7 linked regions of the Homo sapiens genome follow. The protein of the gene in region 1 interacts with the protein of each later gene in a biochemical or structural test. Each region holds a gene or a part of one and is shown on either strand. Other genes may lie near its edges. The genes, in order: DLG3, ARHGEF7, FOXI1, GYPC, SCN4B, SORCS3 and MTMR1.

Evidence for each region.
Region 2: the proteins of DLG3 (region 1) and ARHGEF7 interact in a test that uses a peptide from one of them, tested with the Homo sapiens proteins (one large-scale study listed by IntAct).
Region 3: the proteins of DLG3 (region 1) and FOXI1 interact in a test that uses a peptide from one of them, tested with the Homo sapiens proteins (one large-scale study listed by IntAct).
Region 4: the proteins of DLG3 (region 1) and GYPC interact in a test that uses a peptide from one of them, tested with the Homo sapiens proteins (one large-scale study listed by IntAct).
Region 5: the proteins of DLG3 (region 1) and SCN4B interact in a test that uses a peptide from one of them, tested with the Homo sapiens proteins (one large-scale study listed by IntAct).
Region 6: the proteins of DLG3 (region 1) and SORCS3 interact in a test that uses a peptide from one of them, tested with the Homo sapiens proteins (one large-scale study listed by IntAct).
Region 7: the proteins of DLG3 (region 1) and MTMR1 interact in a test that uses a peptide from one of them, tested with the Homo sapiens proteins (one large-scale study listed by IntAct).

Annotation. Positions count from the first base shown.
Region 1 is NC_000023.11:70,447,835-70,451,334, reverse strand, and holds part of DLG3 (disks large homolog 3), read right to left. Parts: intron 2,423-3,500; coding exon 2,372-2,422; intron 1,977-2,371; coding exon 1,852-1,976; intron 1,646-1,851; coding exon 1,476-1,645; intron 1,167-1,475; coding exon 1,030-1,166; intron 697-1,029; coding exon 552-696; intron 1-551. UniProt on the Homo sapiens protein: Required for learning most likely through its role in synaptic plasticity following NMDA receptor signaling.
Region 2 is NC_000013.11:111,272,310-111,275,809, reverse strand, and holds part of ARHGEF7 (rho guanine nucleotide exchange factor 7), read right to left. Parts: intron 1,997-3,500; coding exon 1,858-1,996; intron 1,080-1,857; coding exon 1,020-1,079; intron 279-1,019; coding exon 132-278; intron 1-131. UniProt on the Homo sapiens protein: Acts as a RAC1 guanine nucleotide exchange factor (GEF) and can induce membrane ruffling. Functions in cell migration, attachment and cell spreading. Promotes targeting of RAC1 to focal adhesions. May function as a positive regulator of apoptosis.
Region 3 is NC_000005.10:170,104,458-170,108,696, reverse strand, and holds the start of FOXI1 (forkhead box protein I1), read right to left. Parts: upstream 2,801-4,239; 5' UTR 2,740-2,800; coding exon 2,166-2,739; intron 1,781-2,165; exon of another isoform or gene 1,636-1,780; intron 649-1,635; coding exon 86-648; 3' UTR 1-85. UniProt on the Homo sapiens protein: Transcriptional activator required for the development of normal hearing, sense of balance and kidney function.
Region 4 is NC_000002.12:126,690,658-126,694,157, reverse strand, and holds part of GYPC (glycophorin-C), read right to left. Parts: intron 295-3,500; coding exon 211-294; intron 1-210. UniProt on the Homo sapiens protein: This protein is a minor sialoglycoprotein in human erythrocyte membranes. The blood group Gerbich antigens and receptors for Plasmodium falciparum merozoites are most likely located within the extracellular domain.
Region 5 is NC_000011.10:118,135,824-118,139,323, forward strand, and holds part of SCN4B (sodium channel regulatory subunit beta-4 isoform 1 precursor), read right to left. Parts: intron 1,298-3,500; coding exon 1,204-1,297; 3' UTR 1-1,203. UniProt on the Homo sapiens protein: Regulatory subunit of multiple voltage-gated sodium (Nav) channels directly mediating the depolarization of excitable membranes.
Region 6 is NC_000010.11:104,644,290-104,647,789, forward strand, and holds part of SORCS3 (VPS10 domain-containing receptor SorCS3 precursor), read left to right. Parts: intron 1-3,500. UniProt on the Homo sapiens protein: Plays an important role in modulating synaptic transmission and plasticity in the hippocampus, probably by affecting the trafficking and localization ofAMPA-type glutamate receptors in the postsynaptic density.
Region 7 is NC_000023.11:150,727,896-150,731,395, reverse strand, and holds part of MTMR1 (phosphatidylinositol-3-phosphate phosphatase MTMR1), read right to left. Parts: intron 1,288-3,500; coding exon 1,186-1,287; intron 872-1,185; coding exon 788-871; intron 1-787. UniProt on the Homo sapiens protein: Lipid phosphatase that specifically dephosphorylates the D-3 position of phosphatidylinositol 3-phosphate, generating phosphatidylinositol. Could also dephosphorylate phosphatidylinositol 3,5-bisphosphate to produce phosphatidylinositol 5-phosphate.

The sequences.
Region 1 (3,500 bases):
GGTCAGGAGATCGAGACCATCCTTGCCAACATGGAGAAACCCCGTCTCTACTAAAAATACAAAAAATTAGCCAGGCATGGTGGCAGGCACCTGTAATCCCAGCTACTCGGGAGGCTGAGGCAGGAGAATTGCTTGAACCCAGGAGGTGGAGTTCGCAGTGAGCTGACATCGTGCCACTGCACTCCAGCCTGGCGACAGAGCAAGACTCCGTCTCAAACAAACAAACAAAAAAACAAAGACAGAACTGGGATCTGGACTCAGTTCTGTGCACTATCCTCTGCGGCTTCTCTCTCTCCTCTTTTTAAAATTCACTCTCCATAGAAATTGTCAAAAATTGCCAATGCTGACTCTATGGCAAGTCTTCACGATGGGGTACTGAGCAAAGTTTTCAATTAGCAATAATGGCGCCTCAGATAAACCTTATTGGCTGCTACAGTGCCACCACTGAGCAAAGCTGCTTGCCCTCTCTTAACAAAGGGTATGAACTTCTTCCCCTCCAGAAACCAGGGGACAGAGCTTTAGACCAGGGACAGGGGCTGATGAGTACGTACTGCTGGCGTAGTCAGGGGGAGCGTACATGTCGTTGAGGTGGAGGCTGCCTGGCTTGGCCACCTTCAAATACACCATATCAGATGTGTTCTTCAGTGAGGCCACAGCTTCCTCGTGCCTCACATCCTGCAGATTGGTGTTGTTCACCTAGAAGAGGAGAGGCCTCAGGCTGGGACTTGGAAGAAGGAGAGGCTTCTCCAGGGAACTCGAGGGATGCCTTTTCAGTGAAATTCAACAGCATGCTAACAAAGGCCCAAGTATAGTGCTGTGAGGAGCAGAGGCAGGAGGTAGGGGATAGGGCAAGACCCTGGCCACAGAAAGAATTAGGGCCTTTGTATCTGGGCAAACACAACACAGATGATAACTCTTGAAATTCCCCCATGATGCCTCATCCCTGAGTGAGGTTTAGGCGGAGTAAGGGGTACTGGAGCTCCTCCTCCCTACCCTACCATTTGGGCATCCCCATGAAGTCTGTCTCACCGCCAGCAGCCGGTCCCCAATCTGTAGGCGTCCATCCTTCTGAGCAGCACCCCCCTCAATGATCTTGGTGATGTAGATGCTGTTGTCTCCTGGGATGTGCTGGTTGCCAATACCCCCAGCAATGCTGAAACCCAGGCCTGAGCGGGAGCCAGCAGGAGGTGGGAGAGGGCCACAAGGAGAGGTTAAAGTGTTGTCGATCCCAAATCCAAACCCCCTCCCCCAGCCAACCCACTGGCCCCACAGGAGCTCCCCCCGGGGGATCCAAACGCTAAGCTGCCATCCTGAGATGAGTAAGGGTGAGGCCTGAGGTCAAAAAAGTAGGCTGTGAGTTGGAACAGGGGGAGTCAGGCAAGGAGTAAGGCCATTCCCTTCCAATTCCCTATGGGGCAAGATGGGATCTGGGGCCTAAGGCTCTGGCTGGAGCACAGGAACCTGGAGGGCCGCACCTTTGGGCCCTTTGAGCAGGTTGACCTCCATGATGGTCTCGGGTGGAGGCTGTCGCCTCCGCACCACCAATCGCACCACAGGGCCTGCCTCCTTCAGCGCCTCCACCGCCCGGCTGTGTACCACCTCCGACACGTCCACCTCATTCACCCGCAGCACACAGTCATTCACCCTGTGGGGGAAGCCCGAGAGGCATGACACTGTGCCCCTACCCCTCCACCCCCTCTCCTGCTTCCTCCCACTTCTCTGTCCTCCCCTCCTCTGCCCTCCCACCCCGCCCTCAGATCTAATGGAAGGGTCATCCTGCCAGGCAGGCTTTCCTCCCCTCATCTCGATCCTGTCCCTGCCACCCACAACCCTGCTTCCAGGCCATCTCACCCCAGCCTCCCATCCATGGCAGCTGCTCCACCAGGGATAATCTTGGTAATAAAGATGCCAGGGTCATCAGGGACATGGGGATTGTCGATGCCACCTGCGATACTGAAGCCCAGGCCAGAGTTGCCCTGCAGAAGTGGGTGGAAAGGCACAGTCTGTTCACTCTGAGGGCACAAAGGAGAGTTCTGGGTACCTCATCTCCCCTTATATCCCAGAGCTAGTTCTCCAGGCCTCAGAAGGGGCCATGGCAGGCTGGGCACATTTGTCAGACACCCAGCCTCTGCTGATCATTTTGGGAAACCCATCCCCTCCCCAATTCCCCAGGCCTCAGTGAGCAAGGTCAATTAATATTTGTTAGTGGGTTGATTGATTGATGCAGTGAAGCAGCCTCTGAGGGCCGCTGTTTCACCATCCTCTAAATGCAGGTCCCCCCATGGGTCTTGAAACCATGATTCAGGGGTCTCCCTTATCCTGGCTCCAACCCTCTCCTTCCCTTTCCGCTTTTCCCCACTGGCAGACTCACCCTCTCAAGTACGATTTCCTCATATTTGAACATGCCATCACTGCCATTCACCTAGGGGGAGACACAGGCAGTTCCCTTAGTGCCCCCTGCCCTTCCAGCCATCTGCCCCTTAGTCAACCTGCCTCCTCCCCTACTCCCACAGAGTAGAAGAGCCCAAGTGCACCCCAGGTCACCTCTTGGCCACAGATGAGGACAGGCTGACCTGGAAGAGGCCGCTCCTCACTCACCCCACCAATCCCTGCTTTGCTTCCAACCATATCAGCCCAAACCAAGCTGCTCATTTAGCCCAGATCAATTGTCTGAGACTGAGCCAGCCAGTGGTGCACTCACCGAGAGGCTGTGCTTCAGTGTCTCAGGGTTCACTAGGAGGGGTGCAGGCCTGGCCTAAGGGGGATGGCAGAGATGGAGCATGGCAGGCAAACCATGCCACACCCAGTGTCCATAGGGGATACCCAGTGGCCTAGACAGATAACCCTTCCCCTTCTGAACCACAGTTCTCCCTGACTGGGGGATCATAGACTCCCACTGTGTCCGAACTGGAAGGACAGCAGACATCATCTTGTCCTATCCCCTTTATGTGACAGTAGGTGACACGGAGGCCCAGAGAAGACATGGGATGTGCCTAAGGGCACACTGGGAATTAGTGACAGAGCAATAGGATATCCAGGTGTTCTTTTGATTACAGTAAGCTCTTAAGGCCACTGATGTTTTGGTCACTCATCCCCGTACCCCAGCAGAGCTCATGGGAAAAAGGACAGTTGCCCCACTTTGGAGCACCTCGTGAGTCTTCACTCTATACCTCTTTCTTGGACTCCAGGAACCCAATTCCTCAAATAGGCAGAAGGAGTCAAAGTCCTAATCCATTTTCTACCAAAGGATTTTTGATTCTGAGCCCTTTGTTTTTCCCAGCAGAAAGGGCGAGGGTGGGATCTGGTCAGGAGTCAGAGACAAAGCCACGGGTGGGACTGGAGCAGGGTAGACAAGATTCCCCATGAGGGAGAAGTTGGTGACCCACAGGCTGATTGGCAGCAGAGTCCATGGTTTTCAATATGTAGTAGCCATGCAAGAAGAGGCAAGGGAAGGGGTCAGAAACACAGGGGTGATTTGGCCAACCCACAGAGATGGCCTC
Region 2 (3,500 bases), on another chromosome or scaffold:
AGTAGCTCACAAATTATAAGATAGAGCTTCTATTAGACATTTTTCATCGCTTGAGATGCCTTTAAAATCTTCTGCTATGAGCTCCTAAGAGTGGGACAGAAACCCTGGTGCGTGCATGTGGGCAGCAGTACCTCACTTCCGGCACACTGAATCAGGACCTGGGACATGTAAGTGACGTTGCCCAGAGTTTTAATGTCATCGCCCTCCCAGTTCCGGATGGCTTCCGTCAGGATCTGCAGCTCAAGCTCTTTCCTCTTCCGGACTTCTTGACATTGGGCCTGACAGACACAGAACAACACTGTTAACAGACATAAACTTTCAGAATGTTAAGTTCCGGCCACATTGCTTTGTATCATCCTTAAGACAATTATTGCTTTATATCTTACTTCTTCAGACAGATAATTTATTGAGCGATTTGCTTAATTATAGGGAATTGAAAGTATTTGCTTAGAAGTATGAAACCAAGTTAAGAGAAGCAACACACACAACTGCTCTGGAATACTAAGTATTATTTTAGAAAGATAGAGCACATTTTGCCACTTGTACAAAAAAGAAATGTGGACAGGACAAGAACTGTATTTTCATTCTGGTTTTGTTCGTGTTTGCCAATATGGAAGACTGAAAAGAAGAAACAGAAAGTATAACTTGTGCTATAAAATAAGGCCATATATTTCCAAAACGCAGTTGGTAAGACAACACAACAGCAGAGAAAATGGAACCACCATTGTTCTGTTTTGCAATAAATCATTAAAGACAACATGAATGAAGGGTAAAAAAATGTTTTAAACAATTTTAAAGTAGATCTAACATCAATTACACAGTGACTTTAAAAAATTTAAATAATTATTCTATCATAGTCCACTAAAAGGAGTTTACCAGCCACAGAATGCCGACTCTGTTTTTCTTTCATGTCAGCACAAGTCATTTTTTAATCATTTGACTTTTTCAGTTGATAATTCTTTTACATTCATTTGTCACAATAATGTCTGGGGGGGAAAACAATATGCTTAATCACTTACTGAAAGGTTTTTGAAGGCAGCCATGGATTTTTGAATATCTTGTCTATCTGTATGATAATCCTTTGAGTAAAAGAAACATACAATTAGCTTTCATAAGGAAAAGCTTTTCTTAAAAAGGTACTTTCTACAGACCAGCTTGAAACTTTTCTAACACTTTTCAACCCTTAACATTCCCTTTTTCCCTCAGCATTAAAGTGTCAGTCTTTCAGCAAATCACGAAGCCATTAGACTTTGGGGAAATATAAGTTGGAAGAGAACAGTCACAAGCAGCAGGGGTGGGGAAGCCAACACTTGCTTCATCAATAAAGTCTTATTGGAACACTGCCACGGCTCACATACAGTATCTAAAATGGCAGAGCTGTGTAGCCGTGAAGAAGACCCTACAGTCTGCCCCCTTATAGAAAAGGTTTGCCAACTCAAGCCAAGAGAGTAACTTCAACCCAAATTTCTGCTAGGCTGCAACCTGTTATTCAAAATTAAAAGAGCACAATCATTCATCAAATGATTAGTACAGTATTACCCTATAACCTATGCACACATTGTTTGTAGCTGGATGATCCAGGTAAGACATCTCAACACTATCTGAAAATCAGTTCTCATGTTTCAGCTTTTGGAAACTTTTCAATCAGCAGCAGTGGGTAAAAGAGAGATAAGGGGTAAATGTTTTCTAATAGAGCTGGAATAAGGAGAAAAACATAATATTTAACAAAACTCTTTGTAAACTCTGTTGGTTCTGGCTTCTAAAATAAATCATGAATAATACTTTCTTTCACAGTAAGTCTGACCATGCCACTAACCCTTGGTAAGGACTCCAAGTAAGAGAATGAAAGCGCAGTACCTCCATGTGTCTCTCGAGCTCTTTGAGCAGCGTAGGGTATTTATCCAGGCGCATGAAGGGTTTGCTCAGGCCCGTGGTCAGCACGAGAATCCCAGGGCTGCTGGCACCTTTGGTCTCCATGAACTCCCCCAACTCCTCACTGGGCAGCAAGTGGCAAGAGAGACACTCGTGGTTAGCAATGAGAGACAATGGTGGCTCTCTCATCTCCATGAGCAACAGCCAGAATTTATGAAACATAAGTGTTGCTTTTAACATCTGGAAGGCTCCAGCTTTTATCCCAAATCTGCGCTGCTTATCTGGAAATGCCAAAGGGGACTCCCATCCCTAAGGGGTCCCGTTCCTGCTCTCATATGAGCAACAATAACTATACACAGCACAGGACATGTGGGTCTCCATGAGATCCTACTGATGGCGAGGTCCTCCAGCACATCAGTGCCATGCAGACATATCCAATGGAAACATGCACACTCAGAGCCAGAATGGATTCCAATAATCTCAGAGTCTCAAGGTGGTAGAACAAGGACCGAGCTGCTCCGGTAAAGAGCTAGAGCACACTGATGGTAGTCATCCCCAGATGCGAGTTCGTCCAGCGAGCAGGCCCCACCTATGTGCTGCCAGCACTCAGCCTGGGAGTAGGCAATGGCTCTTGGGGTGAGGAGCACGAGAAGCAGCAAGAGAAGAGAGCAAACGCTGATTTAGGCTTCAGAACTTCAAAAGCTTTAAGTTTAATCCTCACAATACGTGAGGAAGAAAGGGGTCCCTGTGTGCAGACAGCGAATGTTGATTTACGCTTTAGAACTTCAAAAGCATTGTTACATTCAATCCTCACAACACGTAAGGAAGGAAGGTGTCCCTGTGTATGGACATAGAAACAGTGCATATCCCAAAATTAAAGAGTCAGAAACAAGTTTTAGAACTTTCTGTATTCCTCTTCAACCATCCCCTTCACAGTGCCTCGCCTATCTTTCCCTACAGTGGGTCCTCATGTGTGTCATCTTTGTCCTCAGAGTTCCCATGGCTGTGGCAGAGGACACGGGCAGGCTTCTGTGGGGGGTCCAGCTCTTCACCCACACGTTTGTTAAGGCTGACAGTCACCTGACCGCAACACCCCTTCACTGGCGATCTCTGAGGTCTCTGTCAGGCCCTGGGTCTGCTGTCCCTCAAATTGCATGTGCCATCAGTCCACACATCTGACAGTGTACAGCCCACAGAAAGGAGGGGAGGCAGCACCAGCGCTGGCAGCCGATGCCAGGTCCAGACCAGGATGACTTCTCAGTCACCACATCCCATCCAGGAGACCCAGGTGACCCCCGCCCCATCACCACGCCCCATCCTAGAAGATAGGGGTCTCTAGTCAGCAGAGCTTGGTTCAAATGATACCCATGGCACAAATCCTAGGAACAAATTTTCCTAGTCTAGAGGTTTTCCCTTAAAAGGAAAAGATACTTTTATATCCTCATTATGTAAACGATGTCCTAAAATAAACATGAAAATCCTAACAGCAAAACTGAGAAACAAGCCAATTTCCGGTTCTGGTCTCACAGGAGCCTCCCACCGCACCACCCCAGCCAAGCTGGCTACTGCCAGAGGTCTCGGGGACACCAGAACCATCAAGGGCTCCCGGGGAAAAGACAGACAGTGTT
Region 3 (4,239 bases), on another chromosome or scaffold:
TCATGGACCACCGTGGGGCTGGCATGGAGGACCTCTACTGCTTTTCTCTCTGGCATGTCCACCTGGCTCAGGAGCTGTTCTGTACCTAGACCTCGGTGCCCTCCCTGGGGTAGAGGACACCACTGGTGTTGACACTGTTGTAGAAGTGAGGGCTGAATTGGCTGAGCACAGATCCTCCATAGCTGAGCATGTTGGTGGGCATGGGGTTCGCCCAGTCACCCCCACCGCTGTGGTTGCTGAGGTTGGTGAGCGGGGAGAAGGAGTTGAAGGTCAGTGAGTTCTGCCCCGTCTTGTCACTGGGCTCAGGGCTCAGTCCTGGTGTGACCAAGGGGTGGCTCGTGGGGCTCCCCCCGCTCACATAGGCTGTCATAGAGGAAAGGAAGCTGTTAAGGCAAGGGGCGCCTGATGGGGGAGGGGAGGGCCGCTTCTCTGGGGAGCTGGTGGTGCCCCCTGGTGAGGCTCCATCCAAGATGTCCTGAGGCTCCGTGGTCTTGGGGCTGTCCACCGGGAGACTGCTCTCTGTCTTCTCTAAGGCCAAGGAGGCTGTGCTAGAGGAAACATCTGATTTTCTCTTCCTTTTCCTGCGGAAATTTCCATTGTCGAACATTTTCTCACAGTTGGGGTCCAGGGTCCAGTAATTCCCTTTGCCTGATACAAAAGTGAAAGGGGGTAAATAGAGAGGTGGACAAAATGCTTTGCTTCTGTTCCTCCTTATTGTCATAAACTAAAAGCCAAGGTGACAGATGCAGGAAGACAGAGACCGACAGGCAGGGACTGAGAAATGGAGGAATTCCATCAACTGATGAACCACACCACCTCCATCTTTAATTAAGCAGCCCATGACAGGGCCCTTTGGGACTGCAGCCGAGAGGCATGAGCATTAAGGAGTTTGCAATGTAGGTCTCTTTAAGAAGGATGAAGAACTGGGAGCAGGGATGCTGAGGGATTTGGGGGTTGGGGGTTGGAGGGCTTTCAATGCTGAAGGAAAAGAAGACTCAGGAAAACTCTGGGACTCCCTAATAGCCGTAGGCTTGGAGTCTGAAGACAGACTTGAGTCCTGGCTTTGCTCCTCACTGACTGAGGGGCTTTGGAAGAACCTGTTTTCTAGTCTGAAAAGTGGGCCCATTGCCCCTGTCTTCCTCAGGCCCACTGAGAAAGGATCCACACCGGATATGGAAAGGAGCGTTGCAGCTGGGAGGTACCTTCCCGAGGGAAGGCCTGAACTCTTCCTGCTACCGTCTCTCAGCCTGAGGGTGATGGCAGTCCTTGGACAGGACACTTGCCCTCTTCTGGGGACAAACAGGCCTGGTGTTTGCCACCCTCAAATGGGGCAGAGTTGGGGTTCCTTTGAGCTATACCTTGGCTTCCTGCGGTGGAACAAAAGTGGACTTTAATTCTGGGAAATGGATGCATGAGTATTTAATACATGCCTCTCTGCAGGTCTCTGAGTTTTAGAAATGCATCGTTGAAAAGGAAAAGCTCACAATTTCTGATGTTAGAGAAAACTGAGTTCAAATTCAAGCTCCATCACTATCACTTCATTCTGTGTCACCTCTGAGTGTTATTTTCCTAATCTGTAGAATGGGTTTCATAAGAGCTACCCTGCAGGGGTGTCTTCGGGTTAAAGGAGGTTACCTAAGTAGAAACAAGGCAGGCAGCAAAATGGGCCATTAGTGGCTGTTTAACCCAGGTCAGATCCTCTTCCTGGCAGTCTTGGGATGCCCTTGGGCTTTGGTTGGTCCAGTCATTCATTCACCAAAGACTTTCTATGTGCTGGGTGCTGGAGATGCAGATGAATCGTAATTACTGCAGGCGATTAAGCGCTTGATAACACCTAAAACCTTGTGTACATTATCTCATCACCTCCACTGCAGCCTGCAAAGCAGATGCTGTCACTATCCCTGGTTTTCCGATGAGGGAACTGAGGCTCTGAGGTCTAACCTGCCAGAGGTCACTGACTGGGCAGGAGCACAGCCAGGGCTGAAACCCAAATCTTCCCCCAGGCCCATGCTCTCCTTCACTGCTGAGCTCCCCTCTGTCCTGCCTGGTAGCATCCCCCAGTCTTGGGGGGCACAGCCCTAGTCAGAACTTTCTAGAATGGGGTCTTGGGGAGGAAGGAAGTGAGTCTTCCTTGGGGACACCCCCCACACTCAAAGCCTCCTTACCCGGGTCGTCCTCGTCGCGGGGCACCTTCTTGAAGCAGTCGTTGAGCGACAGGTTGTGGCGGATGGAGTTCTGCCAGCCGGCCTTGCTCTTGTTGTAGAAGGGGAAGTTGTCGGCCACGTACTGGTAGATCTGGCTGAGAGTGAGGCGCTTGTCGGGTGCCCCGTGGATGGCCATGGCGATGAGAGCCGAGTAGGAATAGGGTGGCCGCACCAGCTTCATCAGCTCCTCCTGCGAGGGGATGGGCAGCCAGCCCAGGTCGCTCCCCCCAAGCCCCGACACGCTGGGCAGCAGCGGCCTCTGCACTCCATAGGCCTGGGGCAGGAAGGGGCTGGCGTTGGGGCCGGGCAGGTAGGGTGGCGGGGTCATGGTGGGCCCGTTGAACCAGAGGTAGGGGTTGGGGGTGGCCCCATACTCGCCGCCCCCCTCGAAGGAGGGCCGCTGAGGGCTGGGCACGCCCTGTGGGTGGAAGAAGTTCTCATAGTAGAGGTTCATCTCGGGGGGCTCCTGGCCGATGCTGGGGAACTGGGGGCTGCAGCGAGGTGGGGAGGGCGCCGGCAGGTCGAAGGAGCTCATGCTGGGGCTGGGCTGGCCGGAGCCACCTGCCTGGCACCTGCACCCCGGAGCTGCCCCTGACAGGTGCTCAGCAGGCCCGGCCTCCCACTTATACCCCTAGGGCTTGGCCGGGCGGCCCCACCCAGGGGCGGCCACCTGCCTGTGGATCCCAGCCCAGGGCCCGCCCTCCCTCAGCCTCCAGCCCACGGGGAGGGGACTTTCCCGCTGGCGCCTCAGGTCCCCACTAATGACATGCTAGACGGCTTACCAGAGCTGACACGCAGCGCAGCGAGAACGCCCCTCTATCCTCTCTCCCGGCTTTCTCTCCTGTCTTTTCTCACCATCCTCATGATTCCCTTCTTCTTTTTCTCCTTTATTCTGTCTTACTTCTCTCATTTTTTTTTCTGTCCTTCCCTTTCGTCACATTTTTCTACCCACCTCGGTTTCCTTCTCTCTCTCCCTCCTCTCCTCTCTGCATCTCATTCTCTGTTTCTTTCCTTCTTATTTTCTTTCCTCCCTTCTGCTCTGAACTGTGTTTCTTTTCTATGAACTGATCTGGCCACATCACAGCTGCTCATTCCCGTTCTCTCTCTCTCTCTCTCTCTCTCCCCCTCCCTCTCTCCCTCTCTCCCTCTGTCTCTAGGCTTCCAGTTCTTCTTTCCACTTCCATCTCTCGCTTCCATTCTCATTGTCTTCCCGGCTTCTCCCCTTTCTCCTTCTCTTTCACTCTGTCCCTTTCTCTCCACCTCTCATTTTCTCTGCGCCTCTCTTCCCATCCCCTCATTCTCCCTCCTCTTCCCCCCAATGTCCCCTCATTCTCTAACCAACTGCCCCAGCCGGGACTGGGTGGGACACTTTATCAGAAACCCTGTTTCTTGGTCTTTTGAGGTGAGGAGGCACTTTCTGGAGTTGCCAGGAGAGAACCGGCCCTGGAGACTCAGAAGAGGGCGCAGAGGGGCCTGGGCTGGCTTCTGGTGGGGTTCAAGGGGGCAACCAGTCATAGGCACCGCAGCCTCCCCCAACACACACATACACGCACACACGCGTACGCGCACACGCACACACGCGCACACGCACACGCGCACGCCCACACACGCGCACACGCCCACGCACGCACGCGCACACACGCACGCACACACACACGCATATGCATACATGCTGCAGACGGGCAGAGAACCTGAGAATTTGCCTGGAGAGCAGCAAGGCTCTTAAAAATAATAGCAAAAGGGGAAAATGGGGAATCAGTCTTCAGGGAAAAGTGAGAGAACTTGAACAATTCAAGTTTCTTTCCAGCTGCAGGGCAAGCAGGCTCCCAGCTCCTCTCTGATCCAAAGACCTTTCATGTTTCAGCTCGCAGAGGCCCCTGGCATGGAGGCAGCCAGGGCACGAGGAGAGCGCCCGACTCACCATGCCCCAGGCGTCCTCTCTCTCTCTCCCTCAGGCTCCAGAAGCAGGAGCTGCAGCCCCTGCTGGCTTCTCCCTGTGGCTCAGCCAGCTCCTCTCCTATCTGGGCTCCATCCT
Region 4 (3,500 bases), on another chromosome or scaffold:
AATACATACATAGATACGTACGATGTATGCATGTATATATATATTTACCCAGGGCTAGACTCCTCCATTCCACATTCAAAACCACCTCTGAGGGAGAGAAAAAATGGCCACAGCCACCACTGCCCAAGTCCTTAGGTCAGTTCTCCCCTGGATGTTTTCACCAAGGCCCCCCACCCTGGCTGCTTGAAGGGCTCTGTGATGAGAGCTCACCTGCAATGACGACAATGTCCATTATGGTGGGGGTGGAGGTCTCCATTCTGCCATCCGGCCATCCAGACATCCCTGGATCAGGCTCTGTGAACAGAGGACAAGAATCTGAGGTCAGAGAGGAAGATTCTCCATGCCTAGCAGCACCTTGGCCCAAGCTGCATCCTTTGCTCAGGTGTGAGCAGCTCTGAGAATGGGTCCAAGTGGAAAGGAGCAGTGCGGCGCACCCACTGCTCCTAGCAGGGATGCACAGACCAGGAACCAGGTTCTGCTTGGTCACTGACTGGGATGGAACTGTTTGAACCTGAACCACCAGGTCACTCCAGGCCCATTTGAGTTATCTGCCTAATGCCTGCACTGAGAGTGGTGCTGCACGTGGTAGATGCTCAACAGATATCTGTGCTGTGTATGAAGGCAGGGACTCTTGTTGTGTTTAAGAAAGAATGTTTGTGGAGTGTCTGATGCTCACACCAGGTGTCTCAGTCCATTTTGTGTTGCTATAGCTGAATACTTGGGTAATTTATAAAGAAGAGAGGTTTATTTGGCTCACAGTTCTAGTGGCTGGGAAGTCCAAATTGGGCAGCTGCATCTGGTGAGGGCCTCATACTACTCCCACTCATGGCAAAAAGCAGAAGGGGATCTGACATTCGCAAAGAGACCACAAGGTGATATAGAAAGCAAGAGAGTTTAGAAAGCTGAATTTGCTTTTATAACAACCTGCTCTCCAGTGACTAATCCAGTCTCACGACAGCTAGAACTCCCTCCCTCCCTCAAGGGGGTATTAATGTATGCATGAGGGATCTGCCCCTGTGACTCAAATATCTCCCACTAGGTCCCACCTCCCATCACTGCCACCTTGGGAATCAGATTTCAACATGAGCTTTTGCAGGGTCAAACCACATCCAAACCATAGCACCAGGTGTTGCTTTAACTGCCTTCTATCTACTCTATCATGCAGTCTTCACATCCATCCTATGAGGTGCCTGGTGTTAATGGCCCATCTCACAGGAAGAACACCAAGGTTCAGAGACGTGATGTGCCCTTGATCACACAGCTCATCCGATATCAGGTCAGGACTTGGCCAGTGCTCTTGCCTCTGGAGTGCACTTTCTCTCTTGGAGAAGCCCTTCCCAGGGCTCCTGTCTGAGGAGTCATTCCTGAAGCCCTCCCATAGGTCTTTACATTGACTCTGCTGTGGGAAGGACCACTCTATGACACTATCCAAGTTACTGAGTGTGTTTTTTCACAGCTTAATGACCTGGCCAAAGAGGGTAGGATGTCTAGGACATTGGGGACCGGGATGTTTCCTAGAGCTGCTGCACAGAATGCCTTCTCTCCTCTGGGAGATGATTGTGAAGAAGGATTTATTGGATCACAGAAATATCAGTGTTAACATAGGAAATCCCACGTTCCCATTACAATGGCTCTACATAATAAAACAGAGAAGGATGCTTCATAATAGTCATTTCCACTCAGATAATCACTTTAATTATAGTGCTATGAGGTCATTCTCCCCAGTGCAGCTGCCAGATGCCTCTTTCTTATAAGTAACTGCCTGCTGGAGTCAGGAGTCATAATGGGTGAGGGGAAAACAGACTCCCAGCTAGGGGTCCACAGCAGGACACAGATGGGCCAAGCTAGGGGTGTCTGGGGCCACCAAGGAGCTTGGAGGTGGGGAAGAAGATAATACAAGGCACTGAGGCAGCCCAGGGACCCAGTGAACACTGGCTCAGGATCTGGGTCTCGGGAGCCAGGAACCAGGCAGGGTATAGGATCCAGCATTCACGGTGTTTCTCAGTAGCAAGACCTGAAGCAAGGGCCGTAGCAAGTTCAAGTGGGTGCTAGACTTTATTATATAGAGTGAACAAGTGCAGCCTCCAGTTTAGTATCTAGCACATAGTAGGTACTCAATAAATATTCACTGAATGCATGAGTAAATGCATGCATATATAAATGAATGGATTTAGTGGTGGGGTTCTAGACTTTTCCAATCAACAAGCACCTCAAAGTTCAGAAAGAAAGAATAACACCTTGCTTAAGTAGGCATGGATGGTTATAGAAGCTCAAATACCCAGAACTGCCCTCAGAAATTTTCCAGGTGAAGACAGCATTTATTAGGACAGTTTGTCCAACACAATCAGCGTTAGAAGAGACTGTTATTTCCTCTTCCTTTAAAACAACTAACAATCGCTTACTAGGTGCCAGGTGCAGGTCTCAACATTTAAAGCAATTTAACATGGTCCTTGCAACAGTTGCAAGAACACTGCTTGGAGATTATTCATTCTAAAACCAGGGAAGTCCCAGAAAACAGGGCAGAGCTGGTTGCTGTATGTACACTATACAGGGGGAAAAATGAGGCTATTAACTGTGCTTGGGGCAGGTTGTGTGGTTTGTGTTTTTCAATGGCCCGATGACTGCTCCTCAGCCTACCCTGCTCCCATTCCCTCCTGGCGATTGAGGACTGGGGTGAGTCTGCAGGAGGAGCAGGACTTGGCCACACAAAGGACTGAAGTGGGAGAGGGTAACGCAGAGAATGCCAAGGTGTTGGCTGTGCGAGGGGCAGTCACCCCTCACTTCTGCTGGGACTCCAGAGGGGTGGGGAAGTACAGTGTAAGGCTGCTCAGGAGGGGTCAGATCACTCAGGACCTTGAGAGTGAGGGGGCAGCAGTCTCATGGGGTGGGGGTGTTTTGAGTTTGGGCATTTACTTTGAAGCTGCAGAGCAAGCCTCTGTCTTTTCTTAGAATGCAGGTTTATTTGGAGGCCTTGGGGAGGGACTGCTGAAGAATATGGAAAGTCTGAAACTGCTCCCAAGTCCCACCTTTATAGAACAATTTCCTAAACTTCCTACTGCCTTCAGGGGAACACTTGTATCTGCATAATGTTAATAATATCACCTAGGAAGAATAAAAGCTCAGTGGTGCAATGAGTTGGAGAATGCCAGGTTACACAGAGTCCAACAGGTGTCTTTGATTGCTTGCTTCTGCTGCTTTTTCTTTCTTTTCAAATTGTAGATGTTTCCTGAGTTATTAATAAGCTGCTGAGAAGTGTGGATCTCAAAGAAGGTCGCAGAGCACACAGCACCTCCCAAACTTGGTTGTTCTTCAAACACAGTTTGCAGTCACAGCCATGACCCATGGGGAGCCCGTTGCTCAGGGTTCAAAGCAAGGCAAAGGCAGGCTCAAGTTTCCTTGAGGATGGAGGGTTGGGGGTCATGGACCCAGGGAAGAAAATAATGTGGGATGAGGGAGACGGTGGAGAAGTCTAAGTAGCCTGGTCAGTCTACCCTCATCTC
Region 5 (3,500 bases), on another chromosome or scaffold:
GCTCTGGGAGAAGCAAAGGAAAACTGTGGGCACCCACTCCCTGCTCCTCCCCAACCCCAGGGTGGGAGGGGGTGGCCCAGCTGAGCAGGAAGCAGCTGGGAAACCCAAGGACCCCCTCATCCAAAGGAAGAGAGTCCCTGAGGCGAAGGCAGGCCCTTGACCCAGGGCTGGGAAATGAACCACCCTGGGGGCAGGGCGTGATGGAGGGCACGGTGGGGGGGGGGGAGCGAGCCAATGGGAGGTTGGAGGGTGCAGCCTCTCAGGTAGGAGGGGGAGAAGCAGGGGAGAGCTGGGCTCAGGAGTGCCCAGAGTGGCGATGGTCCTGCCATGCCAGGGGAGGGGCTGCCAGCATTGGCAGCAATGGGGCGGGCATCCCAGAGGCCCAGGACACTGGCTCACTACCTCTGTGGCCCAATTCCCCAAGTAGAAATGCTTGGAAAGGCATAGGGAGCACTCGGGTACTCCAGGAAGGCTCGAGGGGCCCCTTCCTGAGCCCCTCAGTAACCCAGAGAGCAGAGGAGCAGGCTAGGTGGCCAGGAACCCTCAAGACCAGGGTGGCCAGCCCTGGTTGAGAGGGCTTAAAAACTCTGAGCAGGGGAGGGGATAGGCAGATAGGGTCCCGGGGCAGGGGAAAGGAAGTTTCCTACTTGGAAGACTGTGGGGGATCTGGTATCCTATGAAGCAGAGGCAGTCTCTCACTGTGGGCCTGCCCCCATCAGCCCCCACCCCAGGTCTTCTCCAGAGGCCTCCAGCCCACTCCCACCTCCAAAGGAAGCCACTTCTTCCTACACCCCATCTCCAGGGTGCAGCTCTTAGGACATCCCTTACGGATCCTCCCAGTCTCTTGTGAAGAGAAGCCTGGAGGAAAATCAAGGCCCTGCTTGTGCAGGGTAGGGAGACTGAAGGAGACCCCATCTGCCCAGGTGTCAGGGGACCAGCCCCTCCACACCACCCTAGCCTCTCCTTTCTTTCTCCTGAATCTTCCACAGACCCCCTCCCCTGGCCATCCCTTGTCCCTGGGGAGCCCTGACTGGGAAGGGGATGGGCAGGCTGGGCAGGACTCTGGTTTCTTGTGCCCGGAAAGACTACAGTTTGAGCCAAGCAGCAGATGTCTCAGGCACGTGGGTTCTACGGTCGGGGCTCAAGCATCAGTTTCATCATCAGAAAGGGGGCTCCCTGCAGCTGCTCAGCCCGAAGCAGGGCTCACACTTTTGAAGGTGGTTTCTCCTCTGCCTTGGAGCCAGGCAAGCCGTTCTCCGTGTTGTCATTCCCCGAGGAGCTCACGAGACACTCCTTCCTGGAGAGGGAGAGAGAAGGGACAGTGGTGAGGAGAGGAGCAAGAGTAGGGGGAGAATTGTGGCAGGAGCCGTGGGCCCTGCACCCAGCCCTGTGCCTCTCCCTGGCCTTCTACAGAGCTAAGGTAGCCAGAGGCCATGTCACCTAACCTCTCTGTACCTCAGTCCCCTCATTTGTGAAATAGAGGTAGGGATGACCTTCTGCGTGGGGTTGCTGGAAGGAGAAATGAGCACTTAGAACAGTGCCTGCCATGTAGAAAGTTCTCAACTGGCCAGGTGCGGTGGCTCACACCTGTAATCCCAGCACTTTGGGAGGCCGAGGCAGGCAGATCACTTGAGGTCAGGAGTTCGAGACCAGCCTGGCCAACATGGCAAAACCCCATCTCTACTAAAAATACAAAAATTAGCCAGGCGTGGTGGCAGGCGCCTATAGTCCCAGCTACTAGGGAGGCTGAGGCAGGAGAATCGCTTGAACCTGGGAGGCGGAGGTTGCAGTGAGCTGAGATCGTGCCACTGCACTCCAGCCTGGGCAACAGAGCGAGACTCTGTCTCAAACAAAGAAAAAAAGAAAGTTCTCAATAAAGCTTAGCTGTCACCTAGTTGTCTCAACATGGCAGGAAGCAAAGGGCACCAGGTGCTGTTCTCAGGGGTCAGTTCCCAGGCTGTGCCACGCCAGGGGGAGGGGTCCAGGCCAGCAAGGAGTATGCTGAGGACACAGAGTCCCTCTCCCCAGGGCCCCCCAGGCCTTCCTCCCTGAGCTCTCCGTGACTAGAGGTATTAAGGGAAGAACAGAGTCCATGGAAGGGGCAGAGCAGGCAGTGGGTTTGGCTTCAAGGGTGACAGGTCTAGGCAGAGTTTGGTGGGACGGAGCAGAAGACAGGAGGAAGGAGAGATGGTGAGATGGGAAGACACCTCCCGGGAGGCGTTCCACCCTGACCGCTCTGAGCTGGACATGCTCCAACTTCAGTGTGTCCCTCCTCCACAGCAGCGCCCAGGCTGGGCACACAGAACTCCCCAGGGAGCACCTGCATCCCTCTGAGCTTTCTGCTCATGAAAATGGCCAAGTTTTTCACAGCTGCTACAGCCAAACTACATCCTACCCTCACCCTGGGCTTGGGCAGCTGGGTTTGAGGCCTTTGGGAAGGACTGAATATTTTGTCCTCATTAATTTCATCTTGCAATACCTAGTTCCTAGCTCCAGCCTATCAAGATCTTCCTAGATCCCTTTTTCTTCCAACATAGTTACTAGGCTTCTGGAAGTTGATAAATGTGACATCCCTAGTGTACTTCAAATGTTAGTAATAACAATGAACAGGTGGAGCCCTGTGGAATACACTAAAGACCTCTATTCGGATGGATCCATCTCTCTCTCTCTGTCTCTCTCTCTTTCTTTCTTTCTGTCTCTGTACCTAAGGCATAGTTAACCCAGCCAATTACGACCCACCGAACTGTATTCCACGCAGTCCATAATTCTCTACTGAGAACCTACTGGGTACCAGGCACTGTGTCGGAAACGTGCACTCTCCTAGGGCATGTGACATTAAACAAGTGATTGTGACACACTGTGGTAAATAACAGGATGGGGGATGTAGGAAGGAGGGACCCAACCTAGGAAGCCTCCTCATAGGAGTCAGGGAAGCTTTTTGGAAGTATACCTTAAACTTCCAAGCTTCTTTGAAACCAAGAAAGATGAGCAGGAAAAGAGAGAGGGTAAATTCCAGACAGAGGAAACAGCACCCACGTTTCAGAATCAATGGTGAGATGTTGTCCAGTACCTCCCTGTTCTTGAGAAGCCACTGTCTCTGCTGTAATGCAGGCATTCCCCGCCACTCCAAGGACCTCCCTCAGGCTTCCCTACGGTCTGTCCCCTGCCCCCAGGCTCTTCCACCCAATCCCTCCGCCCACCATGGCCAGATCCTTTCTTCTGTGCTCTCTGATCGTGCCAGGGCCCTGCAAGCCCTCGCCAGCTCCCCTGCCGTCGGAAGTCAATCACAGCCTCGACTCCCAGGTCCCCAAGTGTCTGTCCCCAACCCCTTCTGCAGGCTTTTATTCTCCTCCCCACCACCTCACCATACAGCTCTCTCAACAAACAAAAGGCTTGTTCTCCAGACAAGCCCACTTCCCAGACTCTCTGCCTTGGCTCTCAGTGGTGCCTCCATCTGGAAGAATCTTCCCTTTACTCTCCCCAGGGCTTAAGTTATATTA
Region 6 (3,500 bases), on another chromosome or scaffold:
ATAACTGCCTCTTTAGCCCCTAGGCTGGACCTGTCTCTTCTGACCACATTTTGTAGGCAATACGAGAGAGAGATCCTTGATTATCAGGTCTGTGAGCCTGTGTAAAGAAGATGGAGAAGCATACTCACATGGCCCTGTCTTTGAGACTTTAAGGAAATCTCCTGGAGAGTCACTGGGAAACCAGTTTCAGCAACATTGACCCAGCTGGTTTTTCTCCTGTCCCCCTTTCCTGATGGCAGGAAAAGAAGGTGTTGTAAATAAAAGCCAGGGTGAAGAGTGATGGGGATGAGGACACTTTGGGAAGATTCCTTCATCATTGGTTTCAAAGTGGAGGGAGATGTCCGTAAAACAGAGAACATGGGGCCTAGCTCCAGGCTCTTATGACGTGGAAAGAGAATTTTATCTTTTATTCTGGCTTCTGGAGTATTAGACATGTCCTTATTCAGGAGGCCACCAGTTTAATTTTTAACACAATGAGGGTTTCCTTGCTCTTCTTCCAAGTGTCTCTGATGCACCTGATTGCTTGATATGAGTTCCCTTTTGGGGAGCGTTTTCAGTAACCCTATGAAATTGAAAATTGAACTCCATTCTGACTGAGTTTACAGTCAGGGATGCAGGGTGGGACATGAAGGAGAAGGGCCTTCAGCCCACCCCATTGGTCCAGTGTGTGCCCCAGGTGGTTGAGGGTGCAGGAGGAGACCCTTGACCAAGGCTTGGGCTGGGTATTTGCCTTGGTCCCAGGACTGAGAAGAGATGGCTTTGGGGACAAAGGAGAAGGAGTGCAACTGGCTTTGGGCAAAGGAATCAGGAGGGCATGGGATCTGGGTACCACCTCTTGACCATGTTGCCTGCCAGGTGCTCTGGCTGGAAAGTGAGTGGACTTGGCCTTGGACCCTTTACTCTGGAGGAGCGATTTGCTATTTTTTCTCTCCAGTTGCCTCCAGCTGGAATCCTGGTGATTAATGGGTTAGAGAGTGTTTCAAAAACACCCAGAGGGAGCCCAGTCCCCGTGGCTTACAGGGAAACAGAAAAACACATTATTCTGTCCTTTTCCTTCAAATGAAAGAAGAAGCCTCCCTGCTTGCTCAGTGAGTTGGCAAATGGCTCTGGAGAGTGGAAAGTTGTGAAGGCACAGTCCACTTCTCCACACCCCCTCCTTCTTGGATTAACCCTTCATGGGGCCCCCATTCCTGGTGCCAAGGTGAAAACACTGCATCTGCCCTCACATTGGTCTTCATTTCCTTCCAGCAGCGCACTCGAAGTGGCAGCGATTTGCAGGCTGCTGCCCCTGCAGTGTATCTGCTTGGAATACTTGCCAGGTAGTTCTCAATTAATGGGCCCAACACTGCATCTTGGTGAAGAGAAATGGGGAGATGCTGATATTTCTAGGCCCTCCCAGATCACCCTGCCCTGAGCGTACTAGTAGGTGTAACACAGATTCTCCCAGGCAGGATTTCCTACCCTTAACTAATTCAGCTGGACTGTGTTCTAAAATATTTACTCCTAATGTGCAAAATAGTGACAGATTTGATCAGATTAATTGTATTTCACTCACTGGATCATCTAATTGTGGCTCCCAAACAGATTTTTCAAATAGCTTTTGGCTGGATTGCTTGTCTTCATCCTCCCTGCTCACAGTTCCTGTGTCACAATATCTTAATGCATTCTGCCTTTTTGGAGGCTTAATAAAGAAGCTTGCCACAGAAGCCATTCTTCAGGGTTTTGCCAAAAAAATTGTTTTCAATTAGTATTACAAGGGGAAACCATCTCAGTTGAGATGTAGCTGGGAAATGCATGGGGACATAACGGTACTAATTGCTCCTGGTCATTGTTGGTCTGAGGGGCCGTAGGGAGAGGAGGAGCTGGGCACAGCCTATTTATCTGCTCAGTGATTTCTCTGATGGCTGGATTACAGGATGTGATTTCCTTCTCAGATCCTTCAGTGATTTCCAAGGTGAGCAGAAGTTGCAGATTCCTTAATTGGGAGGCCTGATTTAATGATTACAGAAATGCAGTGGCTGGAACTTGCTTTGTAGCTGGCAAAGAAGGAATGCCCGGGAGTGGCTTCTCCAGTGGTGTTGGATTTAAGGGAAAGGGAGGGTGACTTCAGTGGCAGGAAGGCTCAGTGGACAGAAGGGAAAATTGCTTTTTCTTTGGGCTGTGTAAATCTATTGTCAGTGAAGGAATCCTGGAACTGGATGATCTGTGGGCCCTGAATCATCTCATAAGGAGCAGAGAGGTGCAACAAAGCAGACACTCTGTGATAGAAAGATTTGGCTGGAGACTAGTGGTTTATCCAAGGCTAGGTATAGATTGGCTAAGTCACTTAAGGCCTGTGGCTTGACCTACCTGTTGATTTCCCGCTTTCTGCCTTCTTTTGGCCTCTTGGCTGGTTTGAGACACTTCCCTTACAGGGAGAAAATGTCAAAGGAGGATTCTGCAGTAAGTTTGAAGGAGAAAAGAGGCCTTGTGGAGGAGGAGGTGGGAGATATAGAATGTGAGTGCCTAGTGGGTCACTAGGCAGTTCTGGTAAGCAGAACTGGCTCTGTGGGATGGATCGAATTTGGCTAACCAAGTTTATTCTCCTGGTGTTGTGGGTAACTGAGAAAAGGCTCTGGATAGGGCTCTGACTTTGTTGGTAGTCAGTGGAGATGAGGGAGCTTTGCCTTACACATGGTTGGCACTTGATAATGTTTGACTGAGTGAATGAAAGACAGTCTCAAGTCTCATCAAGCAGAGGCTATAAAGGAATTAGAAATTGTTGTTGCCTGGGATAGCAATGATTTCAGAACTTGACAGCTACCATAGCCAGGAGTGTTTCATCCAGTGTGTCTACATTCTGGCTTGAGGAACTTCGGTTTCTTAAATTCAGATCCAGAGTCCATTAGCCTGGCATTCAAGGCTATGTATGTCCCGGGTCTACTTCTCCAACTTTGGATTTGACTCTTCCCTGATTGACTCCTGCATTCTGGCCAGGGCAGCGTCTTCATTGTCCCAAGCATCTTGAGGTCTGTTCCACTTGGGGTACCCTTCTTTCTTGATGAAAGGGCACCTGTTATTCATAGCTCAGTTCAACATTCAGACTCAGTGGCTCTGTGAAACTTTCCTTAGAAGCATTTATTTCTCTTTTCCCCTACTTGTTTATAGAATTTGCAGAGTGCACCACACATTTTGTCATATTTAGTTTAGTACTTACTTTAGTCTTATATTATTTGGTGAGTGATTTGAGGGTAAGAGCTGAAATAATTAAAACAGCACCCCTTCCCTCCAATCACCATCAAGTGCGAGTTCTGTTCTTCTCATCCGTGCCTGGCAGCATGTGCCGTAGGGTAGTACATAGCTCAGTAATACTGAACTCACCTGGGGAGTTGGACTGTGCCTTAGCTGCAGGGTAAGAGGAGAGGAAAGAAGATCATTTTGCCCTAAGATAACTAACAGGTTAACACTGTCTCTTAATAACACTGAGTTTAGACAACTGGTGTATTATTTCATGTATGAAT
Region 7 (3,500 bases), about 80 Mb from region 1:
TACATCCATTTCTTATTTGCAACTAAAATCCGTTTATAATTTATTGTTTATTGTAACTTAAAAGTCAATATATATATTTATTCGGTAAAACCCATTTCCTAGACATTTCTAAAAATCTAAAGAAGCATAAGAATATCCAAACCATACTAAAACATGAAAATTATACGCTAGAATCACATTTCTATATATTTCTTGTCCTATTTTCTATAAATAATGAGCTCTGTTATTTTTGAGAATATACTCAAAAGTCCTTTAGAAACACAGATACCTCTTACGAATGTCTAAAATAAGTAACGTAAAACATTATACCAAATATAAGGTAGAGACAACGTCATGAAACAAACGTCATGAAAATAAGATCTTAGTGGAATAATTTGAAGCTGACAATGCACTGAAGAGTTCCCAGACCCGGGAACACTGGATCAGACAGATGTAGTCACACCACATGCTTCGAATCTAACTGTAGTCAGTGGTTTGGATCCTTACTCATCAATTCTTTACCAGAACATCTAATAAAAACCATCTGGCAAATTTGGTTTTTAAACCCGTCCTTGTCCTTGAGTCCCACTCACCCTCTGGAAACAGGATGAACAAACATGACAAAGTCTAAGGTTTGGCACAGGGAGAAGAGAGAATCAAGGAAAGATGGAGAACCTATAAGCTAGCAGTTAAACCTGTGCATAACTTGTTCGAAAAAGTTTCTTCTCCACCACATCATTTCTAACCTTTTAGAAGAGAAAAAGATGCTCAACCTATTATTTTCAGTTTGATAAGCAATATACTTTACCTGTCTCTTATATTCAGATACTGGATCATAAACTTTCCAGCCATTAATTGGAAATTTTTCTTTATAGCTGAATGCAAATAGTGCCTGGACACAAAAACCACAAAACACATATGTTACTATTTCTTTTTATATCATATACCCAATATTAAAGCTTTTCATTCTAATATGAGCTGAGTGTATTAAGATTCCTATTTTAGTCTGTAAATTTTACAGCAACAAAGTAGCAGCTTTTCTTAAGCATTACCCAGAACTGACAAATTTCAAATATTCTAATATTAGTCACCAACAGAGGAAAAAAGAGAGGAAAAAAAAAAACCTCTGGAAAAAGGAATAATTAAACATAGGATATTTGGACCCCCACAAATGCATGCAGAAAAGGTTTACTCTGGTGTATTTACCTGTCCGTTAGAAAGAGGAAATGCATGTTTGTTGAGGTTTTCAAATATCCCTAGTTTACTCTGTTCTTCCTGTTTATAAGCAAGCCGCAAGTTCCTCATATCCTGTTAAACAATTAGCAAAACTCGGTTATTCAACATACATCAGGCACCTATAAGCCAGATACCGTGCCATAAATAAGGAAATTATTTTTTTTTAATTCATTTCTCCTTTTATACTTTATCCTGCTCCAACGGCACAGTCTCCACTCATTGCAACCTCCGCCTCCCTGGTTCAAGCAATTCTCCTGCCTCAGCCTCCCGAGTAGCTGGGATTACAGGCACCCACCACCACTACCGGCTAATTTTTGCATTTTTAGTAGAGACAAGGTTTCACTATGTTGGTCAGGCTGGTCTCAAACTCCTGACCTCACGTAATCCAACTGCCTCGGCCTTCCAAAGTGCTGGGATTACAGGCATGAGCCACTGCGCCTGGCCCCACTTATGTTTTCAAAGAAGGACTATACATACATTCTCATGTGCATAGGCTATCTGTGGAGGGTTACATTAGAAATCGGCCACAGTGGGTGCCTGAAATGAGTGGAACAGGGTGGCAGGGTGGTGGGTGGAAGGAGACTGATTTTTTACTATACACAGCTTTTGTATCTTTTGAATTGTATATCACCTGTTAAAAAATAAACCCCACACCTTGTAAAGCTCTTAGGCATGATCTGAGAAGGCTGGGAGCATTACCTTAGTAATCTAGGTTAGAGAACATTTAAAGCAGTTGTTAGCAAATGCTCACCCCAGCCATAAAAATATCTTAGTAAAAGAGCCCCAGGATGCCTGCCTAAGCAACATAATTTCCTGACATGCCCTCCCTCTAAGCTACATGGCTACACACATACACCTTGGTGGCTGACTGAGCTGACTTGCTATTTAAGATTGCTTACAAGCTAAGGAAAGAGCACATGCAAAGATTCTGGGATGTGTGTGTGTGTGTGTGTGTGTGTGTGGGTGGGTGTGTCAAGTATGAACCACCAAAGGAAAGCCCATGTGACTGGGATGGCCAGAATGAGAGGAGGGCAGTTCGAGACCAAGCTGCAGAGGAAAGTGGGTCAGGCAGAGCAGTCTTGTAAGGAGAGTTTTTCTTTTAGTCTAAGGATAATGGGAAGATACTCAAGCGTCATGAGAAAGGGGACGACATGTTTCAAAATTGCAGAACCGATCAAGTCACCCCTCTGCTTGCCATTGTTCCATATGGGGAACCCTGCCTGAGAAGGACAGTTGTCAGGGAGTGACTAAAGTGAGTTTAGTAAGCCAACAGATTCATGATCTGGAAGAGTAAAGGGTTCTTTGGAAAAAAAAAAAATGGTTTTGAACGCAGTCTAGGACCAACCAGAGGGAGCTATCTTCAGAGATTGAATCAAAATAAATAGATTGTAAGGAATCCTAACCCAAAATTTGGAAGGGGCGCTGATGATCCTGCAGGCAGGATCTCTTTTCTGGTACTTCAGGTAGGGTTTTTGGTAAACATTACCAAAGTCAAGTCACTGGGAATAAAATACATCAATTAGGAGTGGGTCCTACATGACTTCGTGATTAAAGTTATCACACACATTTCTACTTAAATTATTAGAAGAAGGGTACAAAATAAACAAATAAGCCCAGCTCAACATAAAAATTCCAAGATAGCCAAGAAACTTAATCTCATTTTTAATCACAGAATTTATGGGCCACTGCTGTCCCTTTAGGAAGTCTCTGACCATCCACATTGTTCTGAACGTAGTCTTAAAACAACAAACTGGGGAAATGTATTGGTCTCTGCTTTTCACTTGACTTCTCTGAGATGTGACAAACAATCACTTAGGTTATAGGTCCACGTTAATTAGAAATACAGTCAGCCCTTCCTATCCATGGGTTCCACATTGGAGGATTCGAACAACTGCAGATGGAAAATATTTTTTAAAAGGATGGTTGCATTTGTGCTGAACATGCACAGACATTTTTTCTTGTCATTATTCCCTAAACAATACAGTATAACAACTATTTACATAGTGTTTACACTGTATTAGTTATTATAAGCAATATACAGATGATTTAAAGTATATGGGAGAATGTTCTTAGGTTATATGCAAATACTACATCATTTGACATAAAGGACTTGGACATCCATGGATTTGGGTATCTGAGGCAGAGGTCCTGGAATCAATCCCCCACCGATACCAAGGGACAATTGGACTTCGATGGAAAAGGTTTACTTCAAAGGGTTACATAATAGTTTAAATTCGATATGAGATTTGAAGAGGTTGCTATCCCGAAAACATTTGAGTTACTAG